Linked DNA regions of Homo sapiens: region 2 is linked to region 1. A link means that fine-mapping ties the variant in region 1 to the expression of a gene that starts in the linked region. Tissue or cell type: whole blood. Region 1 holds a variant in brackets; the other region holds the start of a gene. All regions are shown on one strand. Distances are between the middles of the regions.

The links. PIP is the estimated chance that this variant, and not a neighbour inherited with it, causes the effect.
Region 2: STK24 starts here. The variant in region 1 is fine-mapped to the expression of STK24 in whole blood (INTERVAL, PIP 0.92).

The regions. Positions count from the first base shown.
Region 1 is chr13:98,540,894-98,550,843 of GRCh38, reverse strand. All of the region lies in intron 1 of STK24 (serine/threonine kinase 24), which reads left to right. Among named protein-coding and RNA genes, the nearest start is that of STK24, 31 kb to the left of the region's middle. The variant T/C (reference allele first, on the strand shown) is at 4,609.
Region 2 is chr13:98,573,364-98,583,313 of GRCh38, reverse strand. STK24 (serine/threonine kinase 24) reads left to right here and starts at 6,207. Exons shown (of 11, transcript NM_001032296.4): 1 at 6,207-6,569. The coding sequence starts at 6,528. STK24-AS1 (STK24 antisense RNA 1) reads right to left here and starts at 6,059. Exons shown (of 1, transcript NR_046542.1): 1 at 4,473-6,059. RefSeq lists an enhancer at 5,494-5,683 and silencers at 5,774-5,923, 5,944-6,253, 6,304-7,173, 8,638-8,697.

The DNA of each region.
Region 1 (9,950 bases):
AAAACACTGGAAGCAGTAAGCTGTATAAATGATTTCATTTTATTTTGCATACTTAGAATTGGGCATCTGGAACTAAACAAGAGAGTTTATGCAAAATTACATGCAAATGAGTATTTTTTTACCTTTGAGCCCAGAGCTTTAGGCTTCTACCCTGCTGGGAAAAGGATGCTGTGTCCCTGAGCTTTCATGGGACCACCAGTATAAGTATTAGAAAGGACAACTGGACTTGAGTGATAAATACTGATGGTTTGTCTTTAGAGAGAGAAGACAAAACTACAAGAAAGAGGCCATTCCTTTTTGTTGTTGTTGTTTTTGGAGAGAGGGTCTCGCTTCCTCACCCAGGCTGGAGTGCAGTGGTGTGATCATGGCTCACTGTAGCCTCTACCTCCCAGGCGCAGGCGATCCTCCTGCCTCACCTTCGAAGTAGCAGGGACTACAGGTGTGCACCACCATGCCCAACTATTTTTTGTAGGGACAGGTTCCCCCTATGTTGCTCAGGCTGGTCTCAAACTCCTGGGCTCACGCGATCTTCCCCCCTTGACCTCCCAAAGTGCTGGGATTATGGGCATGAGCCACTGTGCTTGGCCTGTTCCTATGTAAAATGAAAAAGAAGAAACAAGAAAGCTTTTACTGCTTCTAGAGAATTCCCTCAGTTGTAAATGACTAACAGTGTTAATGACGTTTCATGAACTAGGATGAAAATCTTTGTGGAGTATTGAATTGAGTCATCAAAGGGAAGCCTGCAGTGTTACAACCCTAGCCACTATAAATAAAGTGTATTAATGAGCTAGTAGTATGCTGCAGACGACCCACCTGTGGAAGTGAGATTCTTGTGGAAAAGTCAAGATCATTGAAGAGATGTGAGACCACCTAACTGTGAGGTTACACCAGGCATAGTCAGGAGGCAAGGAAATAGGTAGCTACTGTGGTCTGAATGCTTATGGCTCTCCACAGTCATGTTGTGAATCTTAGTGCAATTGTGTTTCGAGGTGGGGCCTTTAGGAGGTGATTAGGTGATTAGCTGATGAGGGTTCTGCCTTCATGAATGGAATTAGTGCCTGTCTCAGGCTGTTCTTCTGTTGCTATAAAGCAATTTATAAAGGAAAGAGGTTTAGTTGGCTTATGGTTCTGCAGGCTGTACAGGAAGCATGGTACAGGCTTCTCTTTGGCTGCTGGGGAGGCCTCAGGGAGCTTTGACTCATGGCCGAAGGTGAAGTGGGAACAGGCAGTCACATGGCGAGAGTGGGAGCAGTGGAGAGAGATGGAAGGTGCCACACACTTTTAAACAACCAGATCTTGCTGGAACTCACTATTATGAGGACAGCACCAAGCCGCGAGGGATCCACCCCCATGATCCAAACACCTCCCAGCAGGCCCCACCTCCAACACTGGGGATTGCATTTCATCATGCAGTTTGAAGGGGACCTCCAACCATATCAGTGCCCTCACAAAAGAGGTCCGAGGGAGCTTCTTTGTCCCTTCTGCTATGTGAGGACAGAGCTAGGAGGTGCCATCCATGAGGAATGGCACTCAGTACACACCGAATCTGCCAGTGCCTTGACCTTGGACTTCCCAACCTCCAGAACTGTAAGCAATGAATCGATGTTGTTTATAAAAGTTGCACAGTCTGAGCTGACTAAGACAGAAGTATTTAGGCTAATGGAGGAAGTTGCACAAGCATTGTTGGTGGTTAGCTGCATATGTTTCAGATGGTCAGAAGAAAAAAATTCTCTTCACTGAAATTGTGTTTCACAGCATGTGTTATCTACATGGTCTCAGGATAGTGTCTCCATTGGGGCTTGTATTAGCAACAGCCTAATTGCAGGAGGCCTCATGACCATTGTCCTACCCCGGGGCACTGATCGGGGTCTTCTCTATTTGTTATTACTAAAGGGCATACCTTGGGAGAGCCACATGTGTATTGAAGGTCATATGGTAGATCTAGTCATTTACTCTATTTTTTTTTTTTTTTTTTTTTTTTTGAGACAGAGTCTCACTCTGTCGCCTGGGCTGGAGTGCAGTGGTATGATCTTGGGTCACTGCAACCTCCACCTCTCAAGTTCAAGTGATTCTCCTGCCTCAGCCTCCCGAGTAGCTGGGATTACAGGTGCCTGCCACCATGCCTGGCTAATTTTTGTAATTTTAGTAGAGACAAAGTTTCGCCATGTTGGCCAGGGTGGTCTCGAACTCCTGACCTCAGGTAATCCACCCACCTCAGCCTCCCACAGTGCTGGGATTACAGGTGTGAGCCACCGTGCCCAGCCATTTGTTCTATTTTCATGTAGAAAGATGTGACACGAGGGAGAATAATAGTGAAGTGTACGCATCATCAGCTGTGTGATTTGAGGGTAAACCCTTGAGATGAGACAGTTTCTTGTCACTTGATGATTTATTTTCCTATCTCAGCCTTTAGTTGGAATTTACTGGGTGTGCCTGTCACTTGTGATTCAGCTGCTTCTTTATGTAGCATTGGCAGTTGTGGCTTAGAAAGGACAACACAGCTGAGGCTGCAGGTCACACCATAATGGGAACAGGGGAGCACTTACTATGTCCAGTTTTAAAAAAAACTTTGTTTTTGCCCCAGGAAAATAAAAAATTGTCTTATTTTAGCCCCAGGAGAATAAGAAAACATCTTATTTTTAGCCCCAGGAACTATAATATGTATGCATTTTTCTGTATTTTTTACAGGTGAGTAAACTAAGGCCTAGAGAGGCAAATAACTTGTAAGAGGTGGAGGTGGATTTGAAGCCACATGCACCTGGCCGTAGACTCCACGTTCTTCTCTTCATGTGGTGTCAGCTCCTCCAGTAGATTTGCTGCTGGAGCGGGAAGTTAGAGTCTCTCTGAGTTCTTAAGGGAGAGAGGGGAGGGCTTGGTGGCCCAGCTGCATAAATAGCCTCATCTACCATGAGGGTTTAGCAGTAGTTTGCTCTGTGTGGATAAGAACTACAGTGTGGGATCAGTTTACTGGAGATGAGAAGGTGAATGAGGCTGTGATATTGAAGTATAGGAAAGGTGCTTGCACATCATGTATTTTCTCAGTTTGCTCCTTTGGTCACAAAGAGTTGGTAATAAGGCGAAGTTTACTAAATTGATGGCTGAATACAACTGGGAGCCTTGCAGAGAAAACCATTTCACAGCTATTGATTTTACTCTTAATCTTGCCTCCCCAGCCCATGGCGTGTCATTACAGGAATCCTGGACAAGAGGTGTCTCAGTACAAATACTGGAAAACCAGCTGACTGCAAACAACCTATTGACTTTTTATCATAGTTGGTCATTAATTTTGTTTTAAAGAAATAGGGTCTCATTCTGTCGCTTAGGCTGGAGTGCAGCGATGTGGTAATGGCTAACTATAGCCTCGAACTGGTGGGCTCAAGCAGTCCTCACGCCACAGCCTCCCGAGTAGCTGGGACTATAGGCGTGTGCCACCGTGCCCGGCTCATTGTTTAAATTTTTGGTGGAGATGGGGTCTCATTATGTTTCCCAGACTGGTCTCTAACTCCTGGCCTCAAACGATTCTCCCACCTTGGCCTCCCAAAGTGCTTAGGTTGACAGGTGTGAGCCACTGGGCCTGGCCACAATTTTAATATAAATTTTAACATAAAAGTTACCCCTTAAAACAATTAGATAGCTGGGCGCGGTGGCTCACGCCTGTAATCCCAGCACTTTGGGAGGCCGAGGCGGGTGGATCACGAGGTCAGGAGATCGAGACCATCCTGGCTAACATGGTGAAACCCTGTCTCTACTAAAAATACAAAAAAATTAGCTGAGTGTGGTGGCACATGCCTGTAATCCCAGCTACTCGGGAGGCTGAGGCAGGAGAATTGCTTGAACCTGGGAAGCGGAGGTTGCGGTGAGCCGAGATGGTGCCATTGCACTCCATCCTGGGCAACAAGAGTGAAACTCCATCTCAAAAACAAACAAACAAACAAAAAAAAACAACAATTAGATATGGAAGGAAGGGGGAACACAGATGTTCAGGGCCTCAGAGATTCAGGTGTGAGTAACTGGAGTCCACATGACAAACACAAGGAGTTCATGTGTTCTGGCCTTTTTTTAGTTGAGAAAGTCAATTTTCTTGGCTCTTCCTGAGCCTGTTGCTTGGTTCTTGACATCTCATTGGAAACTGAAAATGGGAATTTGACTTTCCGTGATAGGGGCTGCCCCACCTGCGTTTGTAGGGTTGAAGCTCAGGCCTGTTGTGGGCGATGTTTGGAGGATAAGCTGGCCTGCTTATCTCTGGGTTGGTTGACTGCGAGACCAGGTGGAAGGACACGCAGCCCATCTGGTGGTGAGTGAGGCCACTTGTGGCCAGGGGACTGAAGGAAGTCCCTGTTCACCATATTCTTGGCAAAATCTGGTCTCCTTCTGGCATAGATTCAGCTTTTGACAGGTCTGGGGATTTCATTTTTTTTTTAAAGCAAAATTATAAAAAAGGCTTTTAAAGTGATTTACTCGTGTGTGTTTTTGTAAGAGTTGGTAGATAGAAGGCTTTTGAAAGTAAGGGCTTTCTCAGATGGACCAGGCCATTTGAGATCTGCCTGAACTGCTCACCAGATCATCTGGGATAGCACTGCCTTTGGGATAAGGTGCCATGCTGTGTGC[T/C]AGTGGCCCTTTCACAGCTGTCTCTTGTGAACAGGGGTTGGGGGACAGTGGGGGTGGCACTAGGCATCAGGTGGACCCCAGCACCCTGCCCAGCCTTTGCCGCAGCGGTCATCTGTGCATTGTCTTTTAAACTGAACAATTTCATGTATCAGAAGTTAATCCTGTACTCTTAGCCTTCATCAGTGAAACCCAGAATGACAAGGACTTTAAGACTGGTGTTGAATTATATTCAGATCTTAAGCAATTCCTGTGATCTCCCAATTTCTTTAAACTTTCATGTTTTTTTTAGCTTCAGAAGAAGAGTTTTAAGGTAACATTTTTTTCTTGAATGATTTCTCTTTTTTTGTATTTTCATTTTGTCGGTTTTCCCTATGGAAAGAATTGTTTAAAAGTCATGCAGTAATTACAGTGTTTGGTGTAATATAATTCAGGATGTTTCATCTAATATAGAAAGACATTTGCCGCTTTTAGCTTCTTTATTATTATCCATATTGATTTAGGGTAATGGATTTGAGTTGTCTAATCACTGACTGAGCAGCCAGGAATAAACTTAAAATCTTCTTCCTGAAGCCAAGTCTGGCACTTTTTTTTTTTTTTTTTTTGAGATGGAGTTTTGCTCTGTCACCCAGGCTGGAGTGCAGTGGCGTAATCTCGGCTCACTGCAAGCTCTGCCTCCCGGGTTCACGCCATTCTCCTGCCTCAGCCTCCCGAGTAGCTGGAACTACAGGCGCCCGCCACCAAGCCTGGCTAATTTTTTGTATTTTTAGTGGAGACGGGGTTTCACCGTGATCTGGATCTCCTGACCTCGTGATCCACCCGCCTCGGCCTCCCAAAGTGCCGGGATTACAGGCATGAGCCACTGCGCCCGGCCTAGTCTGGCACTTTTTGATCTGCACGTGTGTACGTTAAAAATTGAGATGTTGCCCTGCTTTTCCCGAAATATGCCTGTGTGAAATAGGCTCATTGCTAACAACTGGGACAGTGCAGAAAAACAGAGAGAACATACTGTTAACATCTCAGTGTACCTCATTCCACATGTTTTCTTTGAATGTGTGCAGGAGTACGCCTGTCCCTCAACCAAAAGGGCACCAATTCCTGTCATTAATTTTACATTGATGTCTACCTAGGTAGTTTGCAGCTTTAAAAACATTTTTGGAAAACTTTGGACATATGAATCTTTTCACTTGTCTATTTCCCTAGGATAAACTAACTGGAAGTGGGGTTTTTGCCTTTTGCTTATTTTCATTTTCAGGTATGGAACATCTTTTCTGATCACTTTTCCATCTTTTTAGCGCTTCCATTCTTCAGATGATATGCTTTTTTGTCATTGTTTTCTACTTTTTGCTGCTTTTAATGTGATGTTTATTTTGATAATGATTTTTATTACCTTCATCTCTAGCTGTGTTAATGCTTTTTGGAGACTTAAAAGGTGCTCCGAATTGTCTGTAATTTCTTTGAGAGTTGAGAGTATTTTTCTGAAATGTTTCCCCTCTCCCTTGGGAATTCGGAAATATTTTCCTTTTGCTTGTTTTCTTTTTCACCACTGTCTTTCCTTGTAGAGGCGTCTCCGCATGCCTCGGTGTGGATTCTTTGGCTTAGGAGGGGACCTGCCATGTACCCTGGCCTCAGGTCGGCTTGGAGGGTGGGGAGCATTGCCTCCTGGGGCGGGCGGCTCTGTCCTCTCCTCTCCGGCCTGCCCTGCCTTCTGCCGGCTGGCTGTGCCTCTGCCTGCTCTACCCGGCGGGATGAGATACTCCAGGGGGGCTGCGCCACTCCCAGTAGGGCCCTTGCTTCCCAGATGCAGGGTCAGGGCCCAGTTGCCTGGGGCCCACAGTGCAAAGCTGGCCTCTCTTCCAGGAAACCTTCCTGGTTAGGGAAGTGGAGATGCCCTCGTGGGCCAGGCCTGCTGGGGACTTCTGTGTCTGCAGTTGGGCCACGGGAACGTACCTGCCACCTCAGTTTCAGAGCCTCCTGCCCCTGTGCTGGCCTAAGGTCCTGCTGTGTTCTCAGTTGTCGCCTCAGCCTGGGGCAGAGGTCATTGTGCCCGGCAGGTAGTCTTTGTCATCTGTGGGTTCAGGTGAGAGTAGTTCCTAGTTTTATTGCAGATGGACTTTTCTTCTCACTCTCCTTCCTTTATTAACTTCAGCGTGGGCCACAGCAGCCTAACGTAAATGCACCTTTCATTTAATGGCTTTTACTAGAAGCCTCTTCATAGCTATTTTTAAACCTGAGGTCCACTAACATGACTCCAAATTAGAGCCAGGATACTCACACTTGCCAATTTACATTGTGTGCTGTTCTTATGAAGCCTAGGATCAAAAAAGACCCAGAAGTAAAATCAAGTTTCTTTTGTATAGCATGTGGTTTATGCGTGTGGGTGACCGAGTCTGCCGGATACTGAGTCGTGGATGGCAGCTTCTGGCGGTGATCCGTTCAATAGAAGCCATTGATGACCGGCACCGCATCTGCAGGCTTCACCCTCGGGGCGGCTGGCAGCTCCTCTCTTGCAGTCGAGGGGTGTCCTGCGTCCTACCATAGTTCAGCACCATCCTTGGGGGCCACTTGGGAGTAGAGGGCTTCCGGGCCCCAGTGCGGGGTCTCCTGTTGCTGCCTCCCCTCTCTCTGTATTCTCTGTCTCTCTGCAGCGATCAGACCCGCGTCTTCGGGTCCGCGCCCACCCTGGCCTCACCTGCTGCTTCTCAGCTGCTGTTGATGGAGACCAGCTGTTTGACCTTTCGTAGTGTGTGCCTTTATTACGCACCAGAATGTTCTGAGAGCAGGACTGAGGCCCCACTCTGAGAGGTGCAGTTTGGGCAGACCGGGAATTTGGGGCAGCTGTGTTTGTGCTTGGAGACCTTTTTTGCTTGGTGCTTCTGGAGGGTCGAGGTTTCTCAAATCTGAGTGCCGAATCAAAGTTGAGTTGTACTGAGAGAGCCGCAGTTAAGTAAATGTATGCAGACTTCCTGTCAGGTCCAGCCGCGGGAGCACATTGGTTGAATTATTCATTTGGTTTGCCCTTCAAGTGTTTAGTTCTCTTTTTTTGGGGAAAAAAACAACTCTGTGGGGACACTTGGATAGAGAGGATTTTCCCGAAGCTGTAAACTTTGGAGGATGGCATGACTGGTCTCCTCCCAGCCGGAGCGGAGCTGCGGCCTCTCCCCCCTCCCTTGGCCTTTGCTGGCACCTGTAAGCCCCCGGAGGCTTCAGTCTTTGGGCCTTCCAGGTCCACGCTAGCTGGCTGCTGTTTTCTGCTACAGGAAGTGGTGGATCTGAGACTTGGTACTCCGTCCCATCGTCTCCACAAATACACCCGTTCCTGTCAGGCCGCGTGTTCTGGTGTTGTTTGGAAATGAGGGGGTCTAGATTTCAACTGACCTCTTACGGACATACAGGGTAAGCGTTGGTACTTGGACGTGTAGATGGAGAAAGTAGAGTAAAAGACAAACGCATAGAAAGTAGATTGCACCATCAGCCTTTCTAGGGCTGTGGGCTGCTTTGCTTCCCGTCACTTTCACTCCAGGAACAAGGGACTAATATGGAAAGGAACCTAGGAACCGGGAAACCCGAGCATTTATTAGGCTCAGCTGTATGATTTTTAATGTGTGTTTCTTTATCTGAAGTGCATGAACTACCTTGTAGGCTGTTTCTTGGGTCTAGGAAGCCATTTATATTTATATGCTGGTTTCCTGAAAAACACAGAGTGCTCTGTGAGTATGAGGGGTTACTGTGTTGTCACTTGAGTTGACCCTGGAGTTTGAGGCTGGCCCTGTTCTGGTTACCATCAGTAAAAGGCAGAGCTGGGAGGAAGTTGGAACCTACCAATTGGCCGTTTTTTTTGTTGTTGTTGTTGTTGTTTGTGCATAGGATGAATGTATTGTTTTTGTCAGTCCTTTTTACCTTAACAGACGAGAGAGTTGGCTGGAATGGTCCCTACTCAGCAATATTTATTTAGGTTTGCACACCTTCCAAAACGTTGCTTATTTAAGTCCCATTTACAATGCTTTAAAATGGCTGACATATCAGTCAGCGCTAGGGTCGGTGGAGTGTGATGTCAAGAAAGTATTAAATCATGAGAGCTGATTACCATGTCCAGAAAATAACGCAGTCTTGTAAATAACCTTTGTCTTCAGGTCGGGATAAGAAATGAGTTATAAACGGCCCATGGTTAAAGTCCTAGTGGACCCTTGGAGAACAGCGGGTGGAGATGGAACGAGCTTTGACTCACTTGTGTTCTGTGTCCTTTGATCTGTGCCAAGGAAGAGATTGCTTTGAAATGCACGATTTTATTTTCTCAACTAAATATTGTAGCAGCAGTAATGGAGTAGTGAGTGGAAAAGTATTGCTCACTCTATTCCACATTTCCCGGAATTTATGTGATACACCCTGCTAACCCCCGGGCTTCAGTAATACCAGTGCGTGCTGTTTAGATGTGCAGATAAAATACACTTCCTCATGGTAAAAGGGTAAAGTGTCATGGATGAGGGCACAGGCTGTTGAGACAAACTGGTTCAAATCTTTCCTACAGTTCATCTCACCTTTGTGTTCTGGTTTCCTTATCTTTGAAGAGATGGGGATTACATGATTTAATTCTGTAGGGACAGCATCTGGTACATTTATTACATTGGCAGCTTCTAAGTCAAAAATAAGAAATATCTCTTGAAAGAATTTAAAAGTTTATTGTAAATTAGGTTATAATTTTCCTGAACCCTCCCACTTTCTGGCTCTGATGCTGACATCATGGTCTCTTTGCTCACAACCTCAAAAGTTTTCATAATACTGCCATTAGGAAAACACTGTTTCCTTTGAACATCTGAACAAACTGCCCTTCATAGTTGGTCGGGATGCAGCTGAAAGTGTTGGGTCCTGATTTTGATCAGCTTGAAGCTGTTCCCAGACCAAACTGAGGGTCAGGCTGCTATTTCTCGGGCCCAATAATGAGATGCAGATGAACTGGAGAGGAAGAGCGTTTTTATTTCCTGCAGCCGGTTACAGGGAGAAGGCCTGGAAATTATCCCCGGACCAACTCAAAATTACAAAGTTTTCCAGAGCTTATATACCTTCTAAGCTATATATTCTTGTATGTAAGTGTGCAGCTAAAGACATTAGTGAGCAACTTCTCTTAGTCTATAACTAAGGTCTGAGTCCTGAAGACCTTCCTCTGGAGCCTCAGTAGATTTACTTAATCTAAATGCGTCCAGGTGCTGGGGTAGATAACCCTTATTTTGTCTCCTGCTAAATCACAGAGGTTTGGGGAGTTCCTTCAGATGCCCAATAACCTTGTCTGTGGAGGCCTGGGGAGCTTCTTCAGACTCCTAGTAAAACTTATTTAATCTTAAATGGGT
Region 2 (9,950 bases), 32 kb before region 1:
CAGAGCCCCTGGACCAGGAAACAAATGGCCTCAGTAGAAGGCAGTAGGGTTGACTCGCTGTGGGGAAGAGGTGAGTGTATAAATGGTTACTCATGGACTGGCTGTATTATTTGGGGAGGGGAGTACACACAAGAAGTTCTACATATGGAAAAAGAGAACGTGTGTGTGCGTGCGTATGTGTGCATGCATGTCTGGGCAGCCAAGAAGTGGAATGTATTAGGCCAGGAATCTTCTTTGCGTGGGGGAACTGCCCCTTCCACATTCCATTGTTCCATTATGCCGTTCAGGTTGGACTCTCCCATTACTGTGCCTTCTTGCCCTTTGGTCCCAAGAATGGACATGCACAGATGTGAATTCCTCCACTACATTTGGCATATGGGCACTGGGTAAGAAAAGGTCACTCTCTTCTCTCTGGGATTACAAGGACCACATGGGGCAGCTCTTGACACCATACCTAGAGAACCTAGATGAGAGGTTCTCATCTAGGAGAGGCTGAGAAGAGGTGAGAGGCAGAGGAAGACAGAGTTGATTTTATCATTGAACTCATCTTCTTGGATTGATCCAAGCCTGATTTAGCCAAGTGTTGATTTTTGTTGCTGAACTAAAATGTCCCTTTTTTGCTTATGGAGGTCTGAGCTAAGTATTTGTCATTTGTTATTCAAAGACTTCTGACTAACAGTATCTCCAACGTAGCTTCTTTGGGAAACCAAATTTAAAAAATGGCAGGAAAATTAAGGTAAAAGACAACATGCTTGCCCTTTTTGCAGGTGAAGCTTTGATGATAGGGTAGTGTATAGGTCAACATTTTTGTGATGATTTTAAGCTGACTTAAGTTTTGTGCATTGTGGAATGAGTATCTGCAACTCATAGGCACATTTTACCTTTGTGTGCTTGTACAATGATCTTCAAGCACATAATCCCCTGGATCTGGTTGAAGTGAAAATTAAAATGATTTCTTACAATTTGTCTTCCTTGTCAGAAAACAGGGCCAAGAGCTTTTAAAAACTAGTGCTGCAGTTGTGTGACTGTAGGCTGGATGACATCATCCTTCTGGGGATGATTTCATGTATGCCCTTTCTGGGTATGTCTGAAAGCAAATCCAGCTTCAAGAGGAAGGGAAATCTACACACACAGCTCTTGATGAATCTTTGCATACTGAAGTCTTTATGAGCAGATTGGCAGGGTCAAGTGGCCACTGTTTAGAGGGTGACAAGCCCTGTTCATTGGTTCTTTGCCAAGCAAAATTGCACATGAGAATTTTTCTAGTGAGCTCGTTCAAGTGAGTCCTTCTAAACAGCCTGATGTTCCCTGGTGTGAGCCCCCAGAACTGCAGCAGAGAGCATGTGCAACAAAGAGCCCCCTTGGAGGCTCAACCCCCAACTCCCCTGGTAAATTGCACCTCCCAACACAGGGGAGGAGGCAGTGGGGGAGAAAGATGGATCTTGTTTAAATCTTTTGCCTGAACTGAGTATGGATAGGCCTGCAAAATATTCTGAACCCTTTTCTGGCAGATTTTTGTCACGTGTTCCAGATGATTTCTTTTAATCAGGAATATTTTATCAAGCAAACACCTATGCATTCTCTGTTTCTGCTCTCAGTTGTACAGTGATTGGAGACTAGTGTTCTGGTTTCTATGCAAGATAAAGTTTAAGGCCTACACCCAAGGAAATATGAAGCAATGCTTATTAGCAGAAGTGTGCAATGTGAAGTGCGCAGAAAGGTCCACAGGCCTTGGCAAGGGAGAAGGAAGCTCTCATTCCTGAAGCTGAGCCTGGAAGACCCAGCTAAAGGGGGGCTGACCAGACACACATTTGCAGAAAAGGAGGTGTGTTACGGGCTGACTTGTGTCCCTCCAAAATTCCTATGCTGAAGTCCTAATTCCTAGTACCTTAGAATGTGGCTGTATTTGGAGATAGGAACTTTAATAAGGTAACTAAGCAAAAATGAAGTAATTGGGATGAGCCTTAATCCAGTACGACTCCGGTATCTTTCTAAAAACAAAGAATTAGGGCCAGGCGTGGTGCCTCACACACTCTGGGAGGCCAAAGTGGGCAGATCACTTGAGGCCAGGAGTTCGAGACCAGCCTGGCCAACATGGTGAAACCCCGTCTCTACTAAAAATACAAAAATTAGCCGGGTGTGGTGGCGCTCGCCTGTAGTCCCAGCTACCAGGGAGGCTGAGGCAAGAAAAATGCTTGAACCTGGGAGACAGCGGTTGCAGGGAGCCGAGATCTCACCACTGCACTCCAACCTGGGCAACAGAGCGAGACTCCATCTCAAAATAAATAAATAAATAAATAAATAAATAAATAAATAAATAATAAAAACAGGAAATTAGGACACAGGAACACACAGTGAAGACCACGAGAACACAGAGGGAGAAGCTGGCCGCTACAAGCCCGAGAGAGGCCTCGGAAGAAACCAATCTTGCTGACACCTTCATCTTGGACTTCCAGCCTCCAGAATGGTGAGGAAATAAATTTCTGTCGTTTTGGCCATCCAGTTGGTGGTTCTTTGTTACGGCAGCCCTAGCAAACTAAGGCAGGGTGCAACTGAAAACCTACTTAGGGTGATATCCCTGCAAGAGCCTGCCCTCTGAGCTCTCCACGCACAGAATGAAACCTTATTGGTACCATTCCTCAATGTAGCTGGGATATTTTTCTGGGGCTTTGGCATACCTTTTCTTGCTATTGTGTCATCCAACAATGACTAGACATTCTTCTTTAAACTGATCTTGATAATTTGTCTTCACCTACTGAACATGTGTAGAAATTTGTCTAAGCCTTCTGTTAGTTACTTATCCAAGCTACTCCTATTTCTCCCTTTAAAGTTCACCATGTAAGTCCCTTTCTTTAATCTCTGAATTTAAATTGCTAATGCTCTACTTGTCTAGCTGTTCTTTATAAAGCAGCATTTGGGGGTGTTTATCTTTTCAACTTAGAAAGAAAAGTGAAGGGATTGATTGTGGAATTCTTGTTTTCTGTTCCTCTCTGAGCTCTGCTGAGAGTGCGTACAAACTAGCTTAGGGGCAGCAAATACATAGGGGCTTTATATTTGGAGGGGCTCCATATAGGGGTATGGAAATATTCTTTGTGGTCCAGAATATATTTCAGATCATAATTCATTGCCAGACTGATGTCCTTAAGTGAACACAAAAGACAAAGAGGACCAGGGAAGAAAAATAATTCAATGGATAAAGTAAATAACTCAATGGGTTAGTATCTCCATGGAGACCATAAAATGCATCATCTCTATGGAGACTCTCATAATCTCCTTCTGGACTTACGGTAGTGTATAACCTGTTGTAATCATACATTGGGGGTGGAGGGAAAGTGACAAGAGGAAGAGGGTGAGAGGATGATCCTTTTCTTTCCTTGGTGGAAATGATAGCTATTGCCACTCTAAGTTTAATCAATTATGGTATTGTATTCATCCAAAGTTAGGATTCTGGGAGACCAGGTCCCTAGGATGGGTTAAGAGGCACCTGAGGATCTAATGTTTATATGCCCAGTACTGAACTGGGTATCTGACATGTATTAATAGTTGGTATTCAAAAAAGGTGTGAATGAATGAACATAATAGGCAATTGCACCGGATCTGATCCCGGGCTCAGGCCCTGTGCATCATCTCTGTTGTGCAAAAACAAATAAGGTGGAGACCTACTTCTGCCATGGGGAATACTCGGTACTACCTGCATAGGGCCAAGGAGAACCAGTAACTCCCATGTTGCTTCCTTCCCTTCTTTCGATAAGAATGGTGCTCAACAGTATGAACATTGTCAAAGGATGAAACAATGGTCAGTGTGGAGAGAAGATAAACAGGGTTCGGGGCAACAGACCAGCTAATGGATGCAAGTCACTGTGTCCAGAGAAGTTACATCCTGCCGGAATCTCCCTGTTTTGAGCCTCACTAGCCTCAGGACACAAACTAGGATTCCGGTTATTTTTTTATACCCAGGGTACTATGGGCCTTTGTCCCCCATCTGCTGTGACTTATTTGCTGGCAATTAGCCCACTGCAAAGTGATTTCTGAGCATTTACCATGGTAATGTCTCAGATCAGCATCCAGACATTTCCATCCATTCATCTAGTTTCTTGCTCTTTATCTTGGTGCCAGGTTATTGCCCTGGCTCTGCTGACCCTAGAAGAATATTTTTACTGTCCCTTTTCTATGCTTAGACATGTTTAGATCCACAAATATTTACCATTGTGTTATAGTTGCCTCCAGTATTGAGTTCAGTCACATGCTGTTCAGGTTTGTGGTCCAGGTGCAATACGTCATACCATATAGCCTAGGTGTGTAGTAGGCTATGCCATCTAGGTTTCTGGAAGTACACTCTATGATGCTCACGTGACAAAATCAACTAAGAACACATTTCTCAGAATGTATACCCATTGTTAAGCAATACATGACTGTGTGTCTGTAGGCCATATATATTAATATATATATAGTCATTTGAGATCAGTCTATATACAGTGTTTTGTACCCTGTATTTTCTTTAATAATATATAATGAATACATTTTCCCCATTACTAGGTACTGAAAGACATAATTTTAAATGACTACATAGTACTCGTATGAAAATGCTATTATTTACTTAACCTCTGTGAGACTTTTTGGCTGTTCCGTTTCCCCAGGATTCTAAACATCACTGTGTCTTCTTACATGCATTCTTCCACACTTCTTGGTTGTTGCCTTAGGATATGTTACTTTAGGTAGAATTCCTGGGCTGCGCTGAAGAATAGAAACATTTTAAAGATTCACATTCTTGCTTGTTTTGCTGTTCGCCTCTTTAGGTACCATATTTTTTAGGTGTACAAAATTTATACACCTGATTTTAAGTTCCTGGGTATCAGGGTTCATACTTCTCTTAATTTTGTATTTCCTTGCAGTCCTACTTACGGGTGGCAGGGCTCCTCAAGGGATGGGTGTACCAATGACAACCATGAAAGTATTCTAAGGTATTCCCTAGGACTCCGAGAAAAAACATGCATCTTTCCAAAGGGAAAGAAGGGATTAGATGTTAGCATCCTACTCCATGTCAGATCCAGAGCACCCGGGGGAACTGAAGTTCGTGGATGGAATACAATGACACCTCAGAAAAGAAATACTCCTTTGGTGGAGGCCTTTAAACTTTTGGGGGCTCATTTTGTCTGCCTAACTCGCCCAGCCAGGGCGCAAAATGGCCACTTAGGAGCATGAGTGAGGTGCCAGCGTCCCTACAATCTAAGGAGCAGGGAGTCATCACTGGGGTGGCTGCCGCTCTACCTGTTTGCGACTGTAATAAAACACCTTCTGGAGGCCGAGGGACCCGCTTCATCCTGACTTTTCCCCTCAGTAGCTAGAGAGAAGGCGGCTGAAAAGAGGAGACAGAACTGGTGCTGAGTGGGCCTGGAGCTTCCGAGGCAAGGGAAAGAGGGAGAGGGCTGCAGTTCAAAGTCCAGACGCGCTTTCCTTCCATTCTCTTCCCTTCCTCCCTGCCCTCTGCGCCCCATTTTCCCCTTATCGTGGGTGGGGGCTTCTGATTTGCTGCGGATCCCAGAGATGGTGGGGTTCAGCCTCCGCACTGCTTAGCTAAGTTCCCAGCCCAGCAGTCCCAGCCGGGCTGTTTTCGGTAACCAAAGCACTAGGAATTAACCTCTCTCTCGGCCTCTTCCCTTTCGGTTTCCTTCTTGGGTTGGCTGGAAACTTCACCCAGACACCGAAGCAGCTCTGCCCGGCCTTTTGGCACAGGCCACCGGCCGAGGCCCCACGGGGCGCTCTCCTTCCCCAGGTGCCCCCGACTCCGATCCTGCCCTCAGGGGCTCGCCCGGGACGCGTTTTCCCAGAGGCCGCCGGGGCGGGGTGGGCTGGCTGGCGGGAAGAGGGGGCCGCGGCCCAGGCTCGCCCCGGCGCCGGCCCGGTGGGCACGCGGCCAGCCTCCGGCCCCGACTCGGTCCCTCCCGGCGCCCGCCCCAGCCGAGGCCCCCTCCCGGCCCCGCCGCCCGCCCGCGGGGGCGTGGGAGCGCCGCAGGAGCAGCTGGGACCCGGGCCGGGCCGACAGGCGGCGGCTGCGGCCTAGGGCTCCCGCGCGGCCACCGGCCTCTCCCCTCCCCCTCCCGGAAGCGCGGGGCGGGGTCCCCGGCCGGGCCGTGGGGGCGGGCGCGGGGGCCGGGCCGGGGCGGGACGCGCTCGGCGCTCGCGGGCTCGGCGGGCTGTGCGCGCCCACTCCGGCTCCAGCGGCCAGCGCGCGCGGGCCCAGGCCGCCCGGCTCCAGCCCAGCAGTAGCGGCAGCAGCGGCGGCGGCGGCAGTGCGCGCGAGGCCCTGCGCCCCCAGCAGCTCCTCCCTGGCGCCGTGCATGGAGACGCGGCCCGCCACCCGCCGCTGAGCCCCCGCCGCCCGGCCGGGACCCGCCAGGGCTGGGGTGGCCTCGGGCTCCGGCCGGCCCCGCCGCCCGAGGGCTGCGCGCGGCCCGCGGGCCTCGCCGCCCCGCGCGGATCGTCGCGGCCCGGCCGTCCCGTCCCAGGAAGTGGCCGTCCTGAGCGCCATGGCTCACTCCCCGGTGCAGTCGGGCCTGCCCGGCATGCAGGTAGGCGGGCGCGGGCCGCGGGGCCGGGATGCGCGACCGGGGCGGAAGCAGCAACTTGGCGGTATCCACACGGCGTCCCCCTACGCTCAGCCGGCCGGGGTCGCGCCGGAGCCTGGCTCCCCGCGCGCCCGGCTCGGCCGGGGGTCCGAGTCCGAGTCCCTGGGCGTCCCTGCCGGCTCCGGCGGCCGAGGTCTCCGGCGTGTGCGTGCAGGAGCCGTAGGAACCGCGGCCTGGGTCCGGATGTGGGGGTGCGGGCGCCTAGTCCTCCGCGCTCCCCTCGCCCCAACACTCTTCCGGAGCTGCAGGCCCTGGGTGGCCCTGTCCCCGGGAGAAGTGAGGTGGAGTGATGCCCTTGGAGGCCCCCGCCGGGTCCCGGGGCCCTGCGTGGTGGCCGGGTTGGCGGAGGGCCCCAGGACGCGTCCCCCAGGCTCGTCCCCCACCCCCGGGCAGGCGGGCGGGAGACCTGGGCAGGGCGGGGACGGGGAGCGCGCCTGGACTCGTCCGGGCCCGAGCGGAGTAGGCAGGGTGGAGTGGAGGAAGGTAACCGCGAGTTCCACTTGCAGTGGCTTTGCCCGGAGCCCCCGTGCACCTGCGGACCGGGGGAAAGTGCGAGTTGCAAACCTTCTGGAAGGAGGAATCCCTCGGACAGCCGCGCACCAGGGTCCCGGGCCCGGCCCCGGGACCCTGGACTTTCACTTTGAGACTTGGTTGCATTTACAGGAATTCTTCGCCCAGTAAACCTCTCTTTCGGTACTTGGTGACACCTTGGCCTACCAGTGACTTTTTGGGGAGTGGGAGAGGAGTTGAATTTCAAATTTACATGTATAAGTTAAAGGTTTTTTGTTGTTGTTGTTTTCGTTGTCGTTGCTTTTAGCCCTTTGAAAAACAAAGCTACCGTCCTTGGCTAACTCTTGTAAACTTTGTAGGCGCAGAAATGGTGGCAAAATGCTTAGGATGGAAATCTTAGGATGCAGTTAGGATATGTCATGAAAGTTTGCTCTGCCAGTTTAGCTGAGTGAACGTTAAGTGTTTGAAGAAAACCAAAAGCATCCAAGTAGATTACTGGTTGATTTACAGGTACCAACAGGCTCCTTCCCTGTGTCTTGAGGGCTGAGAAGCACAGAGCCCAGACCTGGGACTGCCTCTGGGGTCTGCTCGCCTCTTCCAGTGAGATCATCCCTCTCCCTTCTTTTTTTGAAACCGTAAAAAGAAAACTGGATTTCACTGTTCAGGTTTGAATTCTGGAAAAATAGGAACTCAAAGTTACCACTTTAATGGCAGCTAGAATTTTAGTCCAAGTGTGTGTGTGTGTATATGTGTGTGTGTGTGTGTGTGTGTATATATAAGCAGTATATATATGTGTGTATATATGTTTAAGCAGTAAATAAATATACATTTAAGCAGCAACAGTTAAGTTATTATCTTAAGAGTGACTGGGAAGATGCTTGAAGAATATTCTTTTGTCGACTCTCATTTAAGGAGCGTTGAATTTAGCATGCATTCAAAACCTAAACTTCTGCTGACTGCTGGGTAACAATCAGATGTGGTTTCTTGGTATTTTCTAAAGCCGCTTTGGTATGAATTTAGAGGTGTGTAGGTCAGAGTGAACTGGGTGAAAAAAGTAATTTCTTACTAGTCGAGCAAGAAAGGACTCTTGTAATGATTTAAAAAAAAAGTTTTATCAATATTTCCTTTAGGTTGATATTTATACCGTGTTCATCAGGTTGGAATCTAGCACAAATGCCTCACTTACTAGGTTAATTGGCCTTTGTGGATAGCGAATCAGTTTGAAAAGGTACTAAAGCCCCTTTGGCTGGTGCCGTGAAGTCAGTATCAGATGGTTACCAGGTGATATCTAGTATCTCACCTTTTCATTTTTATCCTCACTTTTTTTTTTGAGTGGGTCAGAATTCTTAAACCTTGGGAAAAGAAGATACATTTCCTTAATAACTTTGCCTCTCAACTATTATGTATCTGTTAGGTTGTGTTACATGGGAACTGTTTTTATTTTGTTTTCTCAGTATGAAAGATCTTAAGTGTTTCTCAGTGGAAAAGATGATCAGATTTTCAGCTGTTACAGTTTTACAGTTTTAGAGGTAGGTAAGTTGGCTTCTGCCAGTCATTCCTGTACCTAAGTACATCTACAGACTGTATGGTAACAGTGTATCATTTGGGGAAGAACATTCTTTTCTCCTCCCCCACCCCACAAAAGAAAAACAACAGCACATTTATTTTCTACTTCAAATTAGCAGTTGCTACTGCCCTGGGAGGCTTCCCTAAGAGTTGTTGCTGAAGATTCAATTAAAAACACACCTGCTTTCGACTGTTGTCTGCTAAATGGGAGGAGAGAAGTCCGTATCTCTTCTATGGCTTGCTCTGATAGGCCTCATAGCCCTCCCTTTTTCTTGTCTCCTGACCAGGGCTTATAAGGAGTTGGCTTAGAAAGACAGCAGAGTCTGTAATCTCAGCAGTTTGAGAGGCCGAAGTGGGCGGATCATGAGGTCAGGAGATCGAGACCATCCTGGCTAACATGGTGAAACCCTGTTTCTACTAAAAATCCAAAAAATTAGCTGGGCGTGGTGGCACACGCCTGTAATCCCAGCTACTCGGGAGGCTGAGGCAGGAGAATCACTTGAACCCGGGAGGCGGAGGTTGCGTTGAGCTGAGATTGTGCCGTTGCACCCCAGCCTGGGCGACAGAGGCAGACTCCGTCTCAAAAAAAAAAATAAAATAAAAAAATAAAGCAGAGTGAATTCAGGTGGCCTAGGCAAGGATGCTTGAAAAATAACAACCATGTTAGTATAAACACCATTTTTCAATGTTTTGCAAATCATTTTTATGCCTCTTGATTCTTACCGGTACCGTTTGAGATGTAGATGATATTATACCATTTTGTAGATGTGGAGACCAAGGAAGACTTAACTGACCAAGGTGAGATCATATATTATGTGGCAAATTTGTGATTGGAAACTACTACTCCTCCTACTCCCACTCATCATGCAGTGTTACTGTTTTATGGTTACTTTTGCAAACATTAAAGTTTATCTCATTGCTAGTTAGATTGGCTAAAGAAATTAGAAATAGGAGGCTGATTTTTTAATTTATTCAATCAGCAACCCTTATTGAACTTTCATGTGCCAGGTCCTAGGGGAGGGGTTGAAAGTGGTAGATCTGAATGAGGTTACCATTTAAAGTAAATGTTTAATGAAAGTTGCTGAAGCCTTTGCTTTTTTTCTCTTAAACCCCAGTTTTATATTTCAGTAGGGGAAAAAAATAGACATCAGAAACTGAATGAATATAGTGACGAATAAACATAAAGAAATCAGGCTGATCTGTGGCTATAAGTACTCCGTCTTTCATTGAGCATTTGTTGTTTCACTC